2 separate regions of the Homo sapiens genome follow, and region 1 is linked to region 2. Evidence: fine-mapped expression QTL. Tissue or cell type: whole blood. Region 2 holds a variant in brackets; the other region holds the start of a gene. All regions are shown on one strand. Distances are from middle to middle. Region 1 holds the start of AKAP13 (A-kinase anchoring protein 13). Region 2 overlaps AKAP13 (A-kinase anchoring protein 13).

Region 1 (10,883 bases), 170 kb after region 2:
AAGGCTACATTCCGTGTGATTCCATTTTTACAACATTCTTGAAAAGGCAAAAAACCATGGAGACAGAAAACAGATCAGCAATTTCCAGAGTCTGGGGGTAGAGAACCGGTTGAGTACAAAAGGGCTCAGAAGAATTCTGGAGGATGAAGGGACTGTCCTGTTTGCAGCAGTGGATATATGAATGTATACACCTGTCAAAACTCAGAGAATGTTACACTAAAATGGCGGAATTTTAGTGAATGTAAACTATACATATGAATAATTAAAGAATGAAAAAATAGAGACTAAAGAGACATAATGATGTGCTGAGTGAACTTTAATTTTACTCTGTCCAAAATTTTTCTTAATCAACTATAAAAGATATTTGGGAGACAAATAGAGAAAGTTGAATAGGTATTGAATAATATTATAGAATTAACGTTAATCTTTCTTGTTGTGAATAACTGCAGTTGGTTATGTAGAAAAAGGGTCAGCAAACTTCTGTAAAAGCCCAGATAGTAAATATTTTCTGCTTTGCAGATCACATGGTCTCTGTTGTAACTACTCAACTCTGCTACTATAGCACCAAAGTAGCCAGAGAAGAGCTTACAGAGTGACATAAATGGTCAAAAACCTCACACGTTTTCCTTCTCTCCCATACTAGCACCCATATCATACAAACACACTGATATCCACATTCCCCAGGCACTGAACACAGCATTGCCCCACACAAATGTTCATACAATCACGGTATTTCAGTACCAGGTCCATCCTTACAGCAAGGTCTGACAAAAACACATTATCCATTCATCTTCTATTCATAACGTCACAATCAACTTGTAGGTGGACGAGAAAACTATAAATATGAGGACAAACGCAGGAAACAAACTTTCTTCCACTGACCAGTGAGGACAGATGCATGAAACAAACCTTTTTTTTTTTTTTTTTCAGACGGAGTCTCGCTCTGTCGCCCAGACTGGAGCACAGTGGCATGATCTCGGCTCATTGCAACCTCCACCTCCCGGGTTCAAGCGATTCTCCTGCCTCAGCCTCCCAAGTAGCTGGGATTACAGGCACCTGCCACCCTGCCGGGCTAGTTTTTGTATTTTTAGTAGAGATGTGGTTTCACCATGTTGGCCAGGCTGGTCTTGAACTCCTGACCTCAAGTGATCCGCCCGCCTCAGCCTCCCAAAGTGCTGGGATTACAGGCGTGAGCCACTGCGCCAGGCTATGAAACAAACTTTCTTCCACCCACAGCTTTCTCGTCTCTCCCCATTTACAGCAGTAAGACAGCCTAACCTGGGAAAGAGAGAGGGAAGCTACTTCCAAATGGATGCCTGTCCCCATCAGTAATAACCAAGTCTATTCAAGTGCCAGATGTTAACTTTAAAAGAAGGGAACATCAAAAGTCCAACTTTCTTCGCCTAGCTTTGTCAGGAATGTTTTTACCCTCAATCTGTAAGTGTGACCAACTGTAATTTTTAAAGGTTTATCCTCAATCTGTAAGTTTGATCAAATATAATTTTTAAAGGTTTACTATAATCTCTTCATCAGAAAACTAATGGAAAGATGGAATAAAATCTAAAGAAATGTCCTTAACAGGTAAATATTTCTAGAATGTATCTACTCCATCTAGGTAGTGTAAGTATTCTAAACTATGCTAGTATAACTGATTTAAATCACTGCCTTCTTCTGTAAATGGTGTCACCTTTAAAGTGTTATCTTGAAGAGGAAGTGAGTGATTTGCTCATGTCTCTGTACTGAACTAACACTGTTAACACCCAGTCCAGCTCTACCTTAAACAAGTTTGAGAAATACAGACACAATCCACACTTATTTGCCAAGACTAAGGTAAAATAAAGTTGGAACTCATATCCTCTTATGACTGATGTACTGAAAACAATCCATCTCTCACTGTTGCCCAAATAGCATAGTCACAAAGAGCTCTACCCTACCAAGCCACTCTGCAAGTCCCACTCTCAAAGGAAGACTCACAGGTGACTGAGAAGATAAACTCGCTATTGTTTCCATTATCCTTCAGTTCATCTGGCACCTTTGAAGAAATAGACTTCGATAAGACTCACAAGTCTCAAGGCCCCTTCTTTATGAAAGAAATAGCTAAACCTCTACACTCAGAAGCATCAGACTTTTAAGAATGCTTAAGTCATGTAAAAATGTACCAAAATTATTATCATTACAGCTACTAGGTAATAGCTGCCTACTCCATGTTAGATACTGTAGTTAAGTACCTCACATAGTTTCACTGATTCCTAAGAACACTGTTACTAACGCTTATGGAGTAGGAAACTGAAGCTCTGAGAGGCTATGCAACTAGTCAATGGAAGTGTGGAGATCTGAACGCTACCTAGTTCCAAAGGGTGTACTTTTTTCTAAAATTTCTAATTTTTTTCCAATTTCACAATGGAGGGAGAGTTGTGACTAGATTTGTCCAACAATTTTAATAATTTCACTGGCTGGGTGGAGTGGCTCACGTCTGTAATTCCAACACTGTGGGAGGCTGAGGTGGGAGGATGGCTTGGGTCCAGGAGTTAGAGACAACTGGGCAACAGTGAAGATTCCGACTCTAAAAAAAAACAATAATAATTTCACAAAAAGGGGGGGGCTGATTTCTAAATTGGAACCTCTTGTTGAAATCCTTAGAGCGCTAGTTAAACCCACTTCTTTTCAAAAAATAATTGACAGATTAAAAAAAGGTTAGAAATCCTTTTAAAGTAAATGTCATCACAGATCTGCAAGTGAACTGTCATTCTGGACAGGTCCCCAGTTAGTGGCTCTCTCCTGTGTACGCTAGCTACCACTAGGCAGTAAAAATAATTTACCCAATTCAAACACGTACCGTGCCTGCACTATGTTAAGACTACCGGCAAAGAGGGTAAAAAGCTAAATAAGGTCTATCACAGCCCTCAAGGAGTTAAAGGACTAGAGGAGGAGTCCATTTATAGTATAGTATGTGTGCAGTTACCATTTAGTCAAGGCAAAAGAAGTGTGAGAAATCCTAAAACAATAGTACCTACAGTATAACATGCCATCACCGCCCAGAGAAGGAAAGCAACTAGTGCACTCGTCACGTCATGTTGTAAGTAGTACTTGCTTACATTATGTCCCTCCCTGACAATCCCTTCCAACCTCTGTCAACCTCCTTCCCCACAATCACACACACAAAACCACACAACCAGGAAGGGAAGCCATGGAGCGAGTACTGTGAATCCTAAAAGCGGCTCTGTAATTTAAAAGTGCAATGGCTGTACCTGAAGAAAATTTGTCTTTAGCTTCATCAGGTGAAGAAAATTGGTTTTATAACACAAGGCCCACCAAACCAGAAAAGCCCAGGAACGCTTCTCCACAGGACTCACTTAGCACGAGAAATCACTCTGAGCAAACTGACACACACAGTATTTCTCAAATTTTTCTTTTTCATTTAGCAGATGGTAAAGGAATACAACTGAAGTTAACAATAAATGACACTCTGGCCATTTTGCTCCACTATGAATGACAGACATTTAAGCTAGTTCCATCTGGGGAACTGAAACAGAATCATGTTCATATAATAAGCCACACAAACCAAATTAAGTGTAATATGTGCACCCAAACTTGACAAAACTTGTACTTAATGCAGCCTGCAAATCCCCAAGAGTCCACGACAGAATACAAGAATAGTAACAATGATTTATCTCAACTGATCTTAGCTTCTTCACAAACTTGCCAATAATGACCTTTCAAGAACTGCACCGTTTGTCCTCATCTGCGCAATCCAACAGTTCAGAAAAACTGAAGAAAATGCTTCTTCTAAAAATAAAACACTTGTTGTGGGGGGGACTACTAACAAAAAAAAAGGCACACTGGTTTTTACTGTACTGAAGCAATAAACTCTCCAAATAACTTCATTAAGGAGTGTCATTAGCAAAGAATGAACACCAAAATACCGCTCAATCCAATTTTCATTGTGAATTCCGGGATCTAGAAAATTAAATGGGACGGTATCACTCTGCTATAAGAACTATTTCCAAAACAAAACAAACCTATCTACCCCCTTTCTTGATTTTTTTTTAAAAAGTTTTAGGGTTTTTCCTTTTTTCAACTTCACATACTTCGTGGCTTTGCAAAAAAAAAAAAAAAAAAAAAGCAGTAAACCGTATTTACCAAAAAAAAAAAAAAAAGTTTTGTTTGGTATCAAAGTATAGCTGCAAGCTGAGCCGGCTGGCTGCACGGGTCCCAGAGCGCGTGGGGACCGCACGGGTCTCCTGGGCCGCTCGCCTGCGACCCGCGCGGGTCAGCTGGGCCGCACCCCCGAGAAGCCGCGGAGAGGCACCGACAGGCAGGCGCGGCCCGACGTGTTTACCGTCCGCGTCGACCCCGGGGAGCCGCTCCCTCGCGCCCGCAGCACTTGTTCACGGCGCGGACTCCACGGCGGGGACTCCACACCGCGGCCGCCCGCCCCAGGGGAGGAGTGAGCCCGCCCCGGCGGCGCCGACCCGGGGACCCGGGGCAAGGATTCGGGGCCTCGCTGGGGGCGGAGCGCCTGAGGTAGCATCGGCGGCCGGGCGCGCCCCCCACCCGGAAAGCGGCGACGGCCTCTAAGTTGGGCTGCGGAGTGGGAGGCGCGCCGAGCCCCAAGCAGACAATGCGGGAGAAGGGCGATGCGCAGGGAGGAGGGGTCCGCAGACCTGAGGTCCCGGCGCCGCCCGGCGACCCGTCTGTCCAGCCCGCCCCCGAAACCCCCGCAGCCCCCGCCCCTCCTCCGGGGCCCGCCCCACCGAGCAACCGCAGGGGACTGGCCGCGCTCCGCGCCCCGACCCACAAATCACAAAACTTCCCCCAACTCCGCCAACTAAGTTGCGCTCTCACCGTGCGGCTCCCGGGGCTCCCCCGCGGGCCGAGCTGGGACAACTCTTCACCTTCGCCGCGGAGAAAGACAATAGGCGGCCGCTCCCCCGGAGGCGGCTAAAGCGGCGGCGACCGAGGCGAGCAATGGGCACGGCAGTCTCGGCAGAGCACAGGCGCTTCACCGCGGCTGCTCGGGCTCCGCGCTGGCCCTGCACACAGCTCCAGTCCGCGCATGCGCCGAAAGACGCTCGGGAGGGTGGGCGGGGCACGCGGGAAGGCGGTAACGCCTGCGAGTCCTCCCGTGAGTACACGCGGAGCAAGAACTGCGAGCTGGGATTGCACGGCAGAACTGCCCATCTCGCTGCATGAGACCAATAGTAAGGCTCCTGGACGGGGCACTCAGGTTGCTAAGGGAGGCTGAGGTTGACCGCCGCTGCTGCTCGGCGGCAAAGTGATCAAAGTAGGGTGGCTGGCAGAGGCTGCTCTGGGAAATGCCCACCCACGGTCTCCTCTCCGCCCTGTCTCCAGAAACCGCCCTTCCTCTGTGTACTGGTGGTTACCTGAGCTGCAGCACTTAACCACACATCGTGAAATGATTTACTCCTCTATTTCCCCCACTTCAACTCAGGAAGTGGGGTTTAGTCTTCTGTGTCCACAGCCTAGGACCGTCTAAGGTATTAGGTATTAAATATAGGTATTAAACAAGTGTTGGATGGATGCACGGCGCTATGGCGGAATCACAATTGTGACAGTGCATTCCGTGAACTTCTGGCTACTCGATCACCACAAAGTCATTCCGTGTTCGAGCTGCAAAGGACCTCAAAAATCATCTGGTTGCTTTGGGAAACAAAATGTGGTCCGTGTACCAATGGTGCCGGTAACCACCGGCCCACAGAGGAAGGGCGGTTTCTGGAGACAGGGCGGAGAATATATTAGTTGGTACACGAAGAAACTTCTTTTTTCAAATAGTTAAGTGTTTTTAGTGCGCATTAGGAGGGAAATGCCTATCACGTCAAACCACTGTTTCATTAATGTTATTTCTTAGGTCAAATAAAAAGTGGCAAAAAACGAAAGCACTTCAAGAAAAGTGTTAAGTAAAAAACTGAGACAATTTATATGCAGTTGAAGAACGTGTAAAACTAGTTGATAGTGATTGAAGTAAGAACAGCGGTTAGGTAGGAGGAGAAGATTATTGGCTGGGAAGGAGGAGGAGGGAACCCTCTGGGGTGCTGGTTCTGTATTTTGACCTGGGTGATAGATAACAAAAGTATATACATGAATAAAAAATACATCCAGTGCACTTTAGTGCACTTTGCACATTTTAAACATGTATTTTTAATGTCAGTTTTCAAAAATCTGGTACAGGATATTACCCCCCCGCCCCCAAAAGAAAAGCAAAGATGCAAATGACTGCCATTTGGGAAACACTGATCCAGGCGGCTCACTAGCAGTGACCAAACACCTGAGAAAGGGTATTGTGAATACCTGATGTGTGTGCCAGGAACTTCCATTGTTGAATAGCTCCAAATCTCAGAAATGCTCCTAATGTTGAGCTCTGGTGCTCACATATATTTTCTCTTTTTTTCTTTTTTCTTTTTTTTTTTTTTTTTTTTTTTGAGGCAGAGTTTCACTCTTGTTGCCCAGGCTGGAGTGCAATGGTGCAATCTCAGCTCACTGTAACCTCCACCTCCAGGGTTCAAGCGATTCTCCTGCCTCAGCCTCCCAAGTAGCTGGGATTACAGGTACCCACCACCACACCCGGCTAATTTTTTTATTTTTAGTAGAGACAGTGTTTCACCATGTTGGCCAGGCTGGTCTCAAACTCCTGACCTCAGGTGCTCCACCCACCTCGGCCTCCCAAATTGCCGGGATTACAGGCATGAGCCACCGCACCCGGCCCTATTTTCTTAAGTAACCCTCACCGAATGGCTTTAAAAAAAAAAAAAGAAAAGAAAAGAAAGGCCAAACATGCCCAGTTCTTCATGTGAAATTATTTCTGTATCACTTCATCATGCTGCTCACCCTCTTCCACTGTTCTCTAATCTGTCCTTGTTGATTTTTAAAAACTGGCACAAGGCCTGGCGCGGTGGCTCACACCTGTAATCCCAGCACTTTGGGAGGCTGAGGAGGGCAGATTGCTCGAGCCCAGGAGTTCGAGACCAGCCTGGGCATCAATTGAAACGCCATCTGTACTAACAAATACAAAAATTAGCCAAGCATGGTAGCCCAAATCTTAGCTACTTGGGAGGCTCAGGTGGAAGGATTGCTTGAGCCCAGGAGGCAGAGGTTGCAGTGAGCCAAATCATGCCACTGTACCCCAGCCTGGGTGACAGAGCCAGACCCTATCTCAAAAAAAAAAAAAAAAAGGCTGGCACAGAGAGAGAAGCAGCCTATCATGAGCCGGTCACTTCTCAAAGAACCTGAGTCTTCTGTGAAGCAAGAGTGCTAACCAAGAAAATCACTTGGACCCTAACATTTGATAACCCAGTGAACTTCCCCCTTAGAACCTAGCTTGTTTGTTTCAGAGGCAGCAGTAAATGTTACCATGTCATCTTTCTACGGACACTGACAACACCGTTCCCTGCTCCCCGCCTCAGCAGGATTTACACCTTTCCAGTGGGCTGCAGGAAAAGTTAAGAGTCTAGCACTTCTTGAATTTACTGTGCTTACAAATCACCTGGGAGTGTTTGTTAAATGTGGATTCTGATTCAGTAAGTCTGGGGTGGCATCTGGGATTCCGCATTTCTAAAAAGCTCCCAGGTGCTACTGACGTAGCTATTTTGAAACCCGACTTTTTTTTTTTTTTTTTTTTTTAAGACAGAGTCTCACTCTATTGTCCAGGCTGGAATGCAGTGTCATGATCTCGGCTCACTGAAACCTCCGCCTCCCCGGTTCAAGCGATTATCCTGCCTCAGCCCCCCAAGTAGCTAGGATTACAGGTTCACACCACCACACCCAGCTAGTTTTTGTATTTTTGGTAGAGACAGAGTGTCACCATATTGGCCAGGCTGGCCTTGAACTCCTGACCTTAGGCGATCTGCCCGCCTCGGCCTCCCAAAGTGCTGGGATTACAGGCATGAACCACCATGCCCAGCCTGAAACCCAACTTTGAAGGCAGGAGTCTACCCTAAATTCCCCAAACGGTTGAGCCCTCTGTCCTCCTTGGGAATTCCTAAATTGTTATCTGCATGGCTGATGTCGTCTCATCATTCAGGCCTCAGCTCAAATGATCCTCCTCAGAGAAACCTTCCTTGGCCACCCTCCCTAAATTGACCCACTCTAATCTAGTCCCTCTCTTGCGTATTACTCAGTTTTTTCCATAGCATTTATCTCAATCTGAAAGTACCTTATTTATCTTGTGTGTTTATTGGCTCCTCCCACTATAATGTAAGCTCCTTGAAGTATGCTGTGTTTACCCCCTCTCTCCTGCCCCTCTAATAGTGTCTGGTTCACAGTATGGACTCAATGAATTTCACATTAGTGAACTTGTACAGAAGAAGCTATTACAAGGAGCCTTCAAACTGAGTGTCCCTGATACTAAAGACTTGTTCTTCCAAGGTGTACCAAATATTTCTACATAGTATGCCATATTTCACAGAAAGAGGTTGCAGGTTTAATCATTTCCTCATGTACTCTCAGTAAGTTCGCAAGCCAGGAAAGATGCCTTACTAAACAGTGGTGGGGTTTTGTATCTCTGAACTATCTCTCCATTGACTTATATATCTTCCCAACTGATTTACACAGGTTCTATATAATACCTAAAAATATAACAAGAATAAATCCCATTTTACAGAGAGTTCCTGGCAATGCCAAAGCAAAGAAAAAACAAAATTAACACAGTTAAAAGAGCATAAATTTCTCTTGAAGCTCACACTGTCTAACCTGTCCACTTTGATAATAGAAGCACTGGAACAAGTATATCCCAGTGTTCCTTCACAGCAGTGGACATTGTATTGCATTTGTGATAGAAATAGTGTCCTGATCATGCTTTGAGAGCTTCCACTCTCAGCTCCTTGCTTGGTGTGAAGCCAGCTCTACCACAGCCCCAATTCCATGGCCTCAGCGTGGAATCCAGACCTGACTCTCCTGATGTATCCTATCCACGGGCAACGGTGACTACTTCCAGACTACTCTGCTGGAACTAGGGTCTTGTTTGACTGGAATATTTGTCTCCCTTAAATGGAATCTGGAAGGATATACCTGTCAGCCATCTTGTCACCACAAAGAAAGAACCTTTAGAATGGAACTGGAACAACGGGAAGTAAACAGAGATGAAGAAAAACAGTGTCTTAGTGACACTAGTTGAACTGCTGAATCCGGCAATGTAGACTTTTCAATCCTGTAGGCCAATAAAGCCTGGCACAGTGGAGGTTTCTGTCACTTGCATCCAGAAGAGTTCTAATTGCCACACCACCCATGAGCTGATGATCCCTGGCCAATTCCCTGACAAATGTCTATTGAGAGTTTACTGTGTTCCAGGCATTAGTCATGGTCCTGGGGTTATAGGTGAAGAAGAGGTTACTGTCTTTAAGAAACTCACAGTCAATTGAAGGCAGGCAAACCAGGAAGAAATCAAATGTGTAGGTGCCTTTAAAGAGGCCAATGGAGGGTGTTATGGGGAACAGAGAGGAGTATTTCTCCTAGTTAAAGGATGAAAGTTTAGGAAAGACATCCAAGAGGATGAGACAGATAAGCTGGGTCTTGGAAGACAATCAGGCAGATAAAGAACAGTGGGGTAGTGCAGGAGACTAGGGTGTGTGTGCACAGATAATAGAATGACCTTTCTAGAAAAGGGAAGAGCAAATTCAAAGACACGGCGGTATCAGAAATACAACACACATAAGAAACTGGGTGGGAGATGAAGCTGAGGGCAGGGAGTGGCAGCCAGGTCACGAATGGCCTGGTACGCAGCCCTGGTAAGGAGTGTGTCCCTTATTCTGAAAGGCAAAGAGGAAACCTCAAAATGTGTGAAGAAATAGAACAACAGTGAGAGCAGATTTTCATCTTGTAATAGAAAGATCACCTTACCACCATATGTCGAGGCTGGATTTAAGTTGGGGATGAGGATGGAAGAGAACAAGGGAATCTTTAAGAGAAATCTTCCTCCAGGCAGAAGGTTTTGCAGTCTAGAGCTGAATTTTTATTTCTTGGGGGCAGAGGGAATCTTGCCTCCCTGATGTCAAGCCCAATGTTATCCAATATATATGAGCCATATGTATGCTTTAGAATTTTCCAGTAGTCACATTTAAAAAGTAAAAAAGAAGCAGGTGAAATTTGTTAATGGGGTATTTTTACATTCTATCTATTGTGCTAAGTCTTCAAAATAATCCAGTGTGTATTTACACTTACAGCACATTTCAATTCAGTCTAGTCACATTTCAAGTGCTCAAAAGCCATGTGTGGCTGATGGCTAGTGTACTGGACAGCAAAGGTGAGGTTGATTGCTTCTGATACAGAGCCTCTATCTAGGAATTCCTTCCAAACCTCAATATGTTCCTAAAGCCAAAATTCCTGCACCATACCTCTTCACTTGCATTATCTCATTTATTCATCACAACAACCCTAGGCTGGCACTATTATCCTCCTTTTACAAGTAACAAGTAATCTCTTTTACAGAGATTAAGTAATTTGCTCCAAGTCACATAGCTACTGATTGGCACCGCTTATCGTTCAAGAGATGAAAACTAAGGGAAAGTTGCCAAATCCAAGTTAGAATAGTACTTGAATACAATTTCCCTCATTAGGGCTCTCTCACCTCCTCTTCCTCCTCCCCTCTGTACTTGGAACTATGAACCTATCTAGTCAGCCTAGCTACAGAGTAGGTGCTCAGTAGAGAGCTGATTAAGCAACCAGTTCCTTGTTGAGAATACATCTCAGGAATTCTACAGGCGCAAACTAAGCAGAGATATGGCTTAAGGTTATATGCTGGATTGTGGGTAAATGCACAGTAAATGGCATTTATCATTACGATTATTACCAGGTCAGATACTATTAACATTTTAGGGACCTTGCTGCATATTCATTGCAAGCAGTCTTCCAAAACAGTTGTGCTGATTTAT
Region 2 (10,883 bases):
CTCCTCACAAAATTCTATGAATAAATCCAAATACAACCTAAAGACAGGTTGTGAAAAGAGCGACTAACTATACGGCCTTGGACAAGCTGCTTTAGCCTCCCCGAGGTTTGCTGAGGGGTTTTAAATGAAAACGCAAGTAAAGCACCAAGGTAGTACTGTGCATAATACAAAGCAGGTATTCAATATTCAATAAATGTTAGTCTCCTCCCCCATTCTCTAGTTTCCACTCAGTTCTACAACCTTATCTTTACCAAGACACAAAGACCTAGATCACACAATGACAAAGGAAGTCAGATACAAAGGGATGGACAGACTGATGAATGGGAATTTGGCCAGATGTCAAGTTATCCCAAATCCTGCCTCTCTGGTTATTATTTTTAAGGTATGTCTGTACATTTGTTTCATCTTTTGCTTTACTATGCAAAAGCAAAGTCTCCAAACTTGTTTTGCACCAGATGGGCTACTGAGGACCCACTTGTCAAGTACCTGAAGAGGAATCTAAAAGGGCAAAATTACTATGTTGGCAGAACATCTTGCTCAATAGCACTTGGTTCCATTGTGAAATATGTATTCTTGAGTAGTCACTCCACCACCTAACCCTACACCTAGGTTTCAAGCGCAAGTGTCTTGTAAGAAGGACTTGAGAGCTTACAGGCACAAACCCTTTGAGAGGGGCCAATAGTGCCCACTACAGTAAATCATGACTGAGTACCTAGAGCTTGTCAGGCTGGGTCTGTGTTCAACATTCACATGTGTCCCCTCAATCTGGACAGATCGGTGCACTTTAGGTTCTGTTACTTTGCAACCTTGTGAACCGAGACCTTGGGCAAGTCACTTTACCTCTCTGGCCTCAGTTTCCTCAATTATAAAACAGAGATGGCCAGGTGCAGTGGCTCACGTCTGTAATCCCAGCACTTTGGGAGGCCAAGGCAGGCGGATCACGAGGTCACGAAATCGAGACCAGCCTGACCGACACGGTGAAACCCCGTCTCTACTAAAAATTCAAAAATAAGCCGGGCGTGGTGGCGTGCACCTGTAATCCCAGATACTCGGGAGGCTAAGGCAGGAGAATCACTTGAACCTGGGAGGTGGAGGCTGCAGTGAGCCGGAATCATGCCACTGCACTCCAGCCTGGGTGACAGCAATAGTCTGTCTCAATCAATCAATCAATCAGAGATGACAATACTTACCATATGTAAAATGGTAGCTTAAATGTAATCAACCATACTTTAAAAGTCATATAATGGGTAATATAAATGTACAGTTATTATAGTAAGAACCTTGTTTTCCTCAAAAAACATATAGACTAGAAACCATATAACCCTTTACATTTAAGAGTCATTTAATACTGTACCCTAGTAGCCTCGTCCTGAGTCTCTTCTTTCTCTCTGCCAAATTTTTGTAGAGGGAAGAATATGGGCCTTGGCATTCCACAGCTGTCTGTGTAACAGTAGCTCTACAATTTTCTATATAGCCTTGGACTAGTTACTTTAATTATCTGAGCCTCCATATTTCTCCCGCAAAACACAGATAATGCCTATTTCACGAGGTTGATATAAGGTTGAAATGAAACAATATCTGTAATGTACCAACCATGGTTTCTAGTGCAGTATAGGCATTCAATAAATGAAGATTTGTTCAGCTGATACTAAAAATAAGATGACATTTATGAGGACAAATATGTTTAAACTGGCTCTTATGGCAACTGAAATATTTCAGCACTTGTATGCCACCACTCCAGAGTTGAAATTCTTAAAATAAATACTCTTCTTATAAGGGTGGAAGGACTGTAAATGATTTTTTATCCATCTAGAATTCCTTGTTCCATTAATCTACAGGCATCAACATCACAGCATGTATCAAAGGGCCAAACTAATTTTATTTAAAGTAGTATCTATTACACTAGGGAATAATTTCCAACCTACATCAAGTCCCTACATCAAGTCCTACATCAAGTAGGGACATTCAAATGATGCTTAAAATACTTCAAGATTCTGGTAAAATTTCCCTGAAGTATGAAAAACTGACATAGGCATTAGAAGGAAAAGAAAATTAAAGAAAGGGAAATGGGGGTAACATTTATGTCAATCACTGAGTTATGCTCTCTACATGAATTGTTTATTTCTCAAAGCAACCCATTGAAGACAGTCCTCTTCTTCTTCTTGTGAGACCAAAAAAAAAAAAAAAAAAGGCACTGAGGTTTGGAGAGGTTAAGTGAATCACCCAAGATAAATAATACAGTTTCACAGAAGTAGACCCTGGATTCAAAACCAGCCAGTCTAACTACAATTCTCCAATCTCTCTACTAACTTTAATTCACAGAGAACTACAAGAAATATTACAAAACAAGATATCTGGTAGACCGATCAACTGGAATTTGAGTTTCATTGATCAGTTAACTCTAATTTTACTGATGTCATTATTATTATTAATATATAAGAAATGTTCAAATAGAGTATCTTAGAGTTTAACAAAGTATTTGCACCAATCTTTTTTTAGTTAAAATAACCTTGTGATGTAGGCAGAACAGGTATTATCATTAAGAGAGGGGAAACATGAGACTCAGTGGATAGGTGACATTTTCCAAGTCACACTAACTACTAAGTAGGCAAGCTTAGATTTTTATTAAGCTTTTAATCCGTAAGCAGTTCTACCATACTATACTACCATCTTTCTCCAAGAAGAAATATTTATGCACCTTTATTTGCTCCACAAAAATAACCAGAATCTGTATGACAAATAAGCCCTAATTTTTCATATTGCATACACTAAAGGCTGGGTTATCATCCAGGAAGTAAATAGCAATATCCTTTATTTATGAGATGAAGAAATCAAGGCTTAGCAAGGAAAGTTTGCAAATGGCAGAGCCAAAATGCAAACCTAGGTTTGACTTCCAAGTTTGCACACCTAGTCACTAGCTGGAGCCTCCTCTTACTCTCAAGCTCCCTCATACCCCCAACATGGGTGATCCAAGTCCCAAGATTTCTACTTTGAGATGTGTGAGTAAGAGATCAGCCAGATCCAATAACATCTGGCTCTAATATTTTCTTCTTAGATAACTACAATGCCACGCTCATCTGATATTGTCACTTCCTAGCATTCATGACACCAAGAGCCTGCAAACTGGGGTCTTTACCTATTCTCTCCATTACTAACTAGTTAGGTGACCATGGGTGGGGTCTTCAAATCAGAGGAGATGATTGTCCAACTAAAGGAAAAGTAGGCCTACATGTTTTGGGTACTCTTCTGGGGCTAAGATTTCTCAGGCAAGACAGAAAATTAAAGAAAGGGAAATAAGAGATAACATATATGTCAATCACTGAGTTATGCTCCCTACATGAATTCTTTCATTTACTTAGAGTGAAACTTAAATACAATGTATTTAAGATGAATTTTCAGATCACAAATGCATTCATATTCATAATGTAAGATCTAAATATAAGCTAAAGTGAAACAGCAAGTCAACAAAAGCTCTGCCTTCCCTAACACTGAACAAAGTGAAAGTTAACAATCATGGGTTACAAAAAAGGGAAACTGTAAAAAAAATGTCCTGAGTAGTTATTACTATCTGGTAGGATTTAAAATAAAGTTCAAGTGTTTTCTAAAGGGATAGGTCTTAGAGAATCCTTATATGTCCAAGAATGGCTAATCATAATTTTCGCAGAAGTAAGACTTGCTTTATCAAAATAGACTGGCAATCAAAATAAGCCTTGAACAAAGAAACACAAAAAGAACTTGGGCCCTAACCAGCACAAGGCTCCCCACACCCCACTTAAAAATTAAAAAGCAAAAAACAAGGTAAAGCACCAAGGAATTAAAACAACAAATGTACTTGGGAAGGGCTATAAATGGGGTTAAATAAGCTTGACTTTTCAGTAAAGTGTAGAATGCAACTAGTTATTCAATAAATGTAAAATATACATAGCCATACTTCAATTTCATACTAACTGAAAAGAGGCAATAAAAGAGGCCGGCTTATATGTGGACAATTTCATTTTTAAAAAGCAGGGTGGGGAAGAAGATACCCAAACTATTAGAAAGATAGCATCATGGCTGGGCGCGGTGGCTCACGCCTGTAATCCCAGCACTTTGGGAGGCCGAGGTGGGTGGATCACGAGGTCAGAAGTTCGAGACCAGCCTGACCAACATGGTGAAACCCCGTCTCTACTAAAAATACAAAAATTAGCCGGACATGGTGGCGCATGCCTGTAATCCCAGCTACTCAGGAGGCTGAGGCAGAAGAATTGCTTGAGCCTGGGAGGCAGAGGCTGCAGTGAGACAAGATCGTGCCACTGCACTCCAGCCTGGGCTACAGAGCAAGACTCCATCTCAAAGAAAAGAAAAAAAAAAAAAAAAGAAAGATAGCATCATACATTGTGGCGATTCTTAACTTTCTACAAACCCCTTCGTGAATCTCACCAACAAATGCTTTATTCAGAAAAACATGTGCATAAACCTTTATAATTTCAAGAGATACAGACCCCATGAAGTCTATTCTTGGGCCACTTTTTAAGAATCCCAGGAGTGGAAGGAAAGAGCTCTGGACAGCTTTTGGCTTCTATTTCTGGTCATACCACCTTGTTATCTTCATCCAACCACTTTGTCTCTCTGGATCTCAGTTTCATCTGTTAAAGATGATCTTTTCTTTTTAAGGCTGTAGTATTCCGTTATATGAATATACCACATTGTCCATTTATCTGTGATGGACATCTAGGTTGTTTACACTTTTGGCTGTGTGTGTGTGTGTGTGTGTGTGTGTGTGTGTGTGTGTTTGGTAACAACAATTATATAAATTTATTTATGGGGTACAGTGTGATGTTTTAATCTATGTATATACCATAGAAAGATAAAATCAACCTAAGTAACATATCCATCATCTCAGCTACTTATTTTTTTGTGGTGAGAAATACATTCTTTTTTAGCAATTTTGAAGTACGTATTGTTTTTCTGACACGTTACAACATGGGTGAACCTTGAGGACATTAGCTATGTAAAAGACAGACACAGAAAGACAAATGTTGCATGATTTCACTTATATGAGGTACCTAGAATGGGCAAATTCTTAGAGACAGAAAGGAGAACAGAGGTTATCAGGGGCTGGAGAAAAGGAAGTTCAGTTTGGGTGATGACAAAGTTCTGGAAATAA[T/C]AGTGGTGATGGTTACGTAACTCTGTGAGTGTTGTGATGGTACTGAATGCTACTGAATGCTGTCCCTAAAATTTACTATTTTAACCATTTTTACGTTATGTATATAGGAAAAGAAAGGGGAAGGAAAGGAGAAAAGAAAACCAATAACAAAATGATCATTCTTGATTCTTTAACAACTGAAATTCTACCAAATTCTACTAGAATCACTCTCACACTGAGTGATTTGGGACAATCGCCCCCTTTCCATTTTTTAATCGCTAATTATGACTCAGAACTTTTTCTAAGCTTCACAACAGTAACATCCCAGAATTCAAGTTAAGAGCTAGATCTGCAGCAAGGTGCTCATCCTCTCCTATCAGGGTCCTCTATTGGTGATTTCTCAGGTTGGTTTTCCCTTACCAATCTCCCTTCAAAAGGAGGTAAGTGGCTTTCCCACATGTAACAGAAGTAGTACTTTTAAAGTAAGCAAAAAAAAGTCAAAGAACAAACACACTCTAGTTTCCTTAAAGCTGTGCTGCAATAACAGTCTTGTGACATCCCCTCCAAGGATATAATGAAGCTGTTGTAATCACTTTATTTCCCCATTTGGATGGCAGTCCTTAACCAACTCTGCTTCCCAGCAAAAATCAAATTTAGAGGAAATGCATTTGAACTTCACAATAGTTATGCAGAGTTAACTGTTTCAACTTCTGAAACAAGGCCTCTCTTCCTGAGGCCATGAGGCTAACCGTAGAATGAATCCAATCATTGGCCAGATGGGAAGTGTGAAGGAGTAGAATGTATCACTCCCTGGAATACTGTCTTAGGAGAGCTCAGGTATCCAAAGCTCATTTGAGATAAGTGCCCCTCCTACCACCACTGTATCTGTAGCACCCATCAGAAAGCTTTCTGCAAAGAACTGTCTGTCTAGCGTGATGGGGAAAGGTATAAGCCTGGCAAGTGAATCAAGAAAAAGCTGTTTACATAACCGTAAGTAGCACTACATTCTGAGGTCTCTTTTTGGTCCTTCCAGACTATATACACAGTTAAAAATGGTAAAACATAAAGCACAACTAAATTAAATCTGGCATGAGCAAAATATCTGAGAATTTGCTAATACTGACTCAATTTGCACAGGTCCCTCAATTGCTAAAGAACATAGATCCAATGGGTTTATACTTGTTCAGATAATGTGGTGGAAAAGATAATGATGATAACCACAAAACTAATAAAAATGTATTAAACAACAGAAACTATTCTTGAAACTTCTTTATATAAACATTCCAATAAAAACTTTTGGCTGCTCTAGTGTGTTTATTTCTTTATTTATACAAGAATAAAAGAGCGCTCTTCAAATGTTTTGACTAACAACCTTCCTCTAGAGAACTCTTTAAAGAGTCAGGACATATAATAATTGAGCCCAAAAACAGACAGGATTTCCTACTGCACATTTCCAGGACAATTCAGTTGCTTTTTATTGCTGTTCATATGAAGAAACCACTGCTCTCAAATTTTATTCACAGAAATTACATTCAATCCAAAACTTAATTGTTTACAATATTTTCTGTATGCAATTATAATATGGAAGTACTGGTTTCTAATTAACTCTTTCAAGTCTTAAAGACATACCAGAAAAAAATATATGATATAGGAAATCTGTTTCCTCTTGTACTAAACCAGGATAAACTGTATACATTGGTAATGTTATGCTACCTCCACAGACAAGGCTCATTCTGACTTTTGAGTAAAATAGTAAAATATAAGAGATAAGAATTGAAGAAGGCAGGCAGGCAGACGAGAGAGAAAATGGTTAACACGACTTACGTTTCTCTCTCAGACAATGAAGTGGTTAGCAGGAGCAAGCTTACAAACCTCCAGCAGAAGGCAAGATACAGAGCTGAGGTTTTAATTTGCGGCAAACACACAATGAGATGCCAAGTGGGTGGTACTCCTATGAATCGGGGGTGGGGCTGGGGATGAGAGGAGGGAAATAAGGCAGAAGGAGCACTTACTCGGTTAGAAGCTGGTGCAGCTTGTGATAGCCTCGCTCCAAGGCCAAGCTCACAGGCGTCGCCCCTTCCTGGTTGTGGATACTGAGAGCTCCGCGGCCACCTGGCTTCTGCAACAGGAACCACGTCAACCTCAGCAGTCCCAGCCGCACAGCAAAATGCATCAATGTCTCTCGCGGGCCAGCATCTGTAAATGGGGGAGAAAATGAACGTAAGTGAGGAAAATATAAAAACAAAAAACAAACAAACATAAAGACAAGTTATGTAAACACCACTGCCTCCAAGTGCCTAAGATTGTAAAGTTAAGCTACAACATACAGTGTGAACAGCTTTATTGTGGCCAGGTAGAATCAGCCCTCAAGTAAAGGCAAAACAAAGCTACAAAAGCATAGAAAGTATAGGAAGCAAAATCTTCAATCGAACACAGTCCTGCAAAAGAGAATCAGGACATTTCTATATTCTGACTTAATACACAGTGTTTGTTCAACCAATTTCACAGGCAGGCATATAAAGGCGACCCATACACACGTTCTTTTACTCAAATAATAATAACAGAAGCAAATGCAGCCCCACAACATGAGGTCCAAGAGGGAATAGCTGTTGGGACTTAAATGGGTGTATCATAAATGGTATAATTACTTTTTAAAAGAACACCCAGACAGGAGTTGGCTAGTTAAACACTAAAAACAGGTTCTGCTTGTTCAGTACACATGGGTCTTTTTATTCCTACACAATAAGGGCAAATCAAATTTCTGGCACTGCCAGCTTTATTTATTTGTTTAATGAGAGGAAGAAATGCATCTCCTGGCACAATAAGGAAGACTAACTCTAAGACAATCCACTAATAACTGCAGAAAGGAAAACGTTTATTTAACTTGAAATAAAGGCTCCCTCTTAGTAAAGTGAGTCACTCTGAAAGTGACAGAATGAGGAAGGGCTTGTAGTTAGACAAATCAGGGTTCGAATCTGGCATTTACCATCTGTGTGACCAAGCGTGATTCATGTAACATCTCTGAACTTCACTTTCTTCATCCCTAAAGTGAGATACCAACACCTCACTCACAGAGGTGTAACAAATGAGAAGAGGTAGATGAAATGCTAGTATTATGACTGGCTGTAGTAGACATTCATTAAATCCCAGTTCCTCTCTGTTTCCCGGCTCTCTTCACTGTCCTCTTGGACATCAAATTACATTCAAGGTTCACTAGCAATACTCTCTTCCTTCAGCAGTCCTCAGTGCCCAACCTAGGATGACAGGAGCTGAGGTCTTTGCAGGGATGCCACATATAGCCCCACAAGGCTGTACTACACTTAACTCCAGGGAGCTGGGAATGGCACCCTGAAGTTGTGCCTGCCTCAGCTTAGCTATCATCTCTTTCTTCATGGCCTCCCACGGGTCTAAACTTCTTCACTAAGCACTCGGACTTTTTGGACCCCAGTGGTTTTCTCCTTACTGTGAAGTCCTCAAATGCTTCTATACGTGAATATCACAAAGGAATGAACAGATTTTTGAAGCTGTGATTTTACACTGAATTACACTGTTTCCAAATGTCATCTGTGTATTAGTCTGGTATCCCTATTTCCAAGGTAAATTTCCTTGGAAGCACAATTTTTCATATTGTATATTTTCCCTACAGAACTGTATATGCATAGACCAATTCAGGATTTAAAGGGTGTTTAACCAGAGGCACATGGCTGGAAAGATTATGCCCCAGAAGCAACAACTACATGTGCAGGTACAAATTTTAATAATCAACACCTCTGCGCAGATGGCAAGGCCAGACAAAAGGACAAATAGAATCCTCACAAAAGATCAAATAGCACCATCTAACTTTTGCCTTACAGTTGTTCTGACATCCTTATCAAGAACAAAGAGCTAATGAGGCACTAACTAGGAAATACCTGATTCTTTAGAGGCTAGTTATTTCCAACCTTGAAGCAGCTGTCTCTTTACCACCCTCCCACAACCACTCTTCTGATTTGTTATTTGTTCTGAGTCAGCTCAGCATTTCAGTAGAAATCCCAATACTACAGCCACACGCCTGCTCAGAAGCTGATGCCCTGACTTCTGCACTACATCCTCTCTCAATTTCTGAAAGTCTTAGCAACTGGTACCACATCTGCTTTTGTGTAGACCCTTTCTGAGGATAACAGATTAGGAGAAAACAATGTAGTGCTATGCACCATGCACTGGGCTAGGCAGTTTATGTCAACTTTTTCCATTCTATCTTCTCAGTAACCCTATGAGGTCTGGTTATCTTCATTGTGCAAATGAAGGCAGATTCATAGAATTAATAGCTTGCCCACAGTCAGATCAGGATTTAAAATCAAAAGTTCTTCTGTCTTGCATTAAACAAACAAACAAACAAAAAACCTTTTCCATTACTCCACCCTGTTTCTTTTTGCTAGGAAATAAAACCACAAATACAAAAACAAGCAATCATACAAGCAAGCTAAACTAATGTGGTTTAAAAAGCACCTTTTTATGTTTTCTTCCAACATTTTATTAACTTTTCCAACATACACATAGTTCAAAGAATCACACAGCAAATAGCCAGACACTCACTCAACAACCTAGATCCTACAATTAATGTTTTTCTATATTTGCCTTATCACATATATATCCAACGATTCTTCCTTCTATTTCCCCATCGATCCACCTTATTTTTATGCATTTCAAAATAACTTGAAGATATCAGTCCACTTCACCCCAAAATACTTCAGCATGCATATAATTAACTAGCATTCAATATGTAGTTACAATTTTAGGTGATTTATATACAATGAAATACATATGGTATAGTATACCCATTTGATAAATTTTGACAAATGCATATACACGTGAACCCAAATCTGTACCAACATATAGAAAATTACCAATATCCAAAAAAGTTCTTTTGTGCCACTTTCCAGTTAATCCTCTCCTCCTCATTCAGAGTTAACCATTGTTCTGAATTTTTCACCTACATTAGTTTTGCCTGTTCTACAACTCCATATAGATGAAATTATAGAATATACACTCTTGTGTAAGGCTTCTTCGATGAGCATGTTTGAGATTCATCTACATTGCTGCATGTAGCAGTAGTACATTCTCTTTTACTGCTGAGTAGTCCACCGCATGCATATACCCCCAGTTTTAGGTATTCTCCCATTAATTTCTCACACATTTTTATTTGATTCAGGGGTCATGTGAATTAGGTTTGTAGAAGAGGCCAAGGTGCAAAGGGATAAACGAATATATGAATTTAGTTTCCTTTAGTCTGTGTTGTTTTAAGAGCATGAAAGCTTCCATCACTGCTTTCTTCCTTTTGTGTTTAAACTGCAGAGCTCAATCATTTAGGATCAATCTCTGTTCCCTTTTCTCTGCATCAGTACTCCTCTGTAATCTGAGTTACTCAACTTCATTTTTTTAGATCACTAATGGCCTTTCCTACAGTGTCAACTGAGTCCTTTGTCCCCAGTGTGAATTAACTGTGCTTTAGGATTGTGGATGGCTGCATCATTTTTGCCAACTCACTCCCCTTCCATCCTTGTCGTCATAATAATAGCTTTGCCGCAGATGTAATTAAAGCCCCTAACCAGTTGATCTAATAAGGGAGGTTATCCTGGATTATGTGGGCAGGATAATCCCACTGCATCAACTGGAAGGCTCTGAAAGCAGGTCTTAGATTTCCCCTGGAGAGAAGGGATTCCATTCCACCTGTGGAGGACAGCACTAGCCTGTGCCTGTGGAGCTCCATCCTGCCCAC

The links. PIP is the estimated chance that this variant, and not a neighbour inherited with it, causes the effect.
Region 1: it holds the start of AKAP13, and the variant in region 2 is fine-mapped to the expression of AKAP13 in whole blood (TOPMed, PIP above 0.99).

The regions. Positions count from the first base shown.
Region 1 is chr15:85,374,761-85,385,643 of GRCh38, reverse strand. It overlaps AKAP13 (A-kinase anchoring protein 13), which reads right to left and starts at 5,041. Exons shown (of 37, transcript NM_007200.5): 1 at 4,846-5,041. MIR7706 (microRNA 7706) reads right to left here and starts at 5,048; the gene lies at 4,982-5,048. It overlaps LOC124903546 (a long non-coding RNA gene), which reads left to right and starts at 1,247. Exons shown (of 3, transcript XR_007064747.1): 1 at 1,247-1,437; 2 at 1,534-1,581; 3 at 1,909-1,968. RefSeq lists silencers at 4,337-4,504, 4,161-4,730, 5,111-5,190.
Region 2 is chr15:85,540,210-85,551,092 of GRCh38, reverse strand. AKAP13 (A-kinase anchoring protein 13) reads right to left here. Exons shown (of 37, transcript NM_007200.5): 5 at 7,138-7,321. Among named protein-coding and RNA genes, the nearest start is that of AKAP13, 170 kb to the right of the region's middle. The variant T/C (reference allele first, on the strand shown) is at 5,147.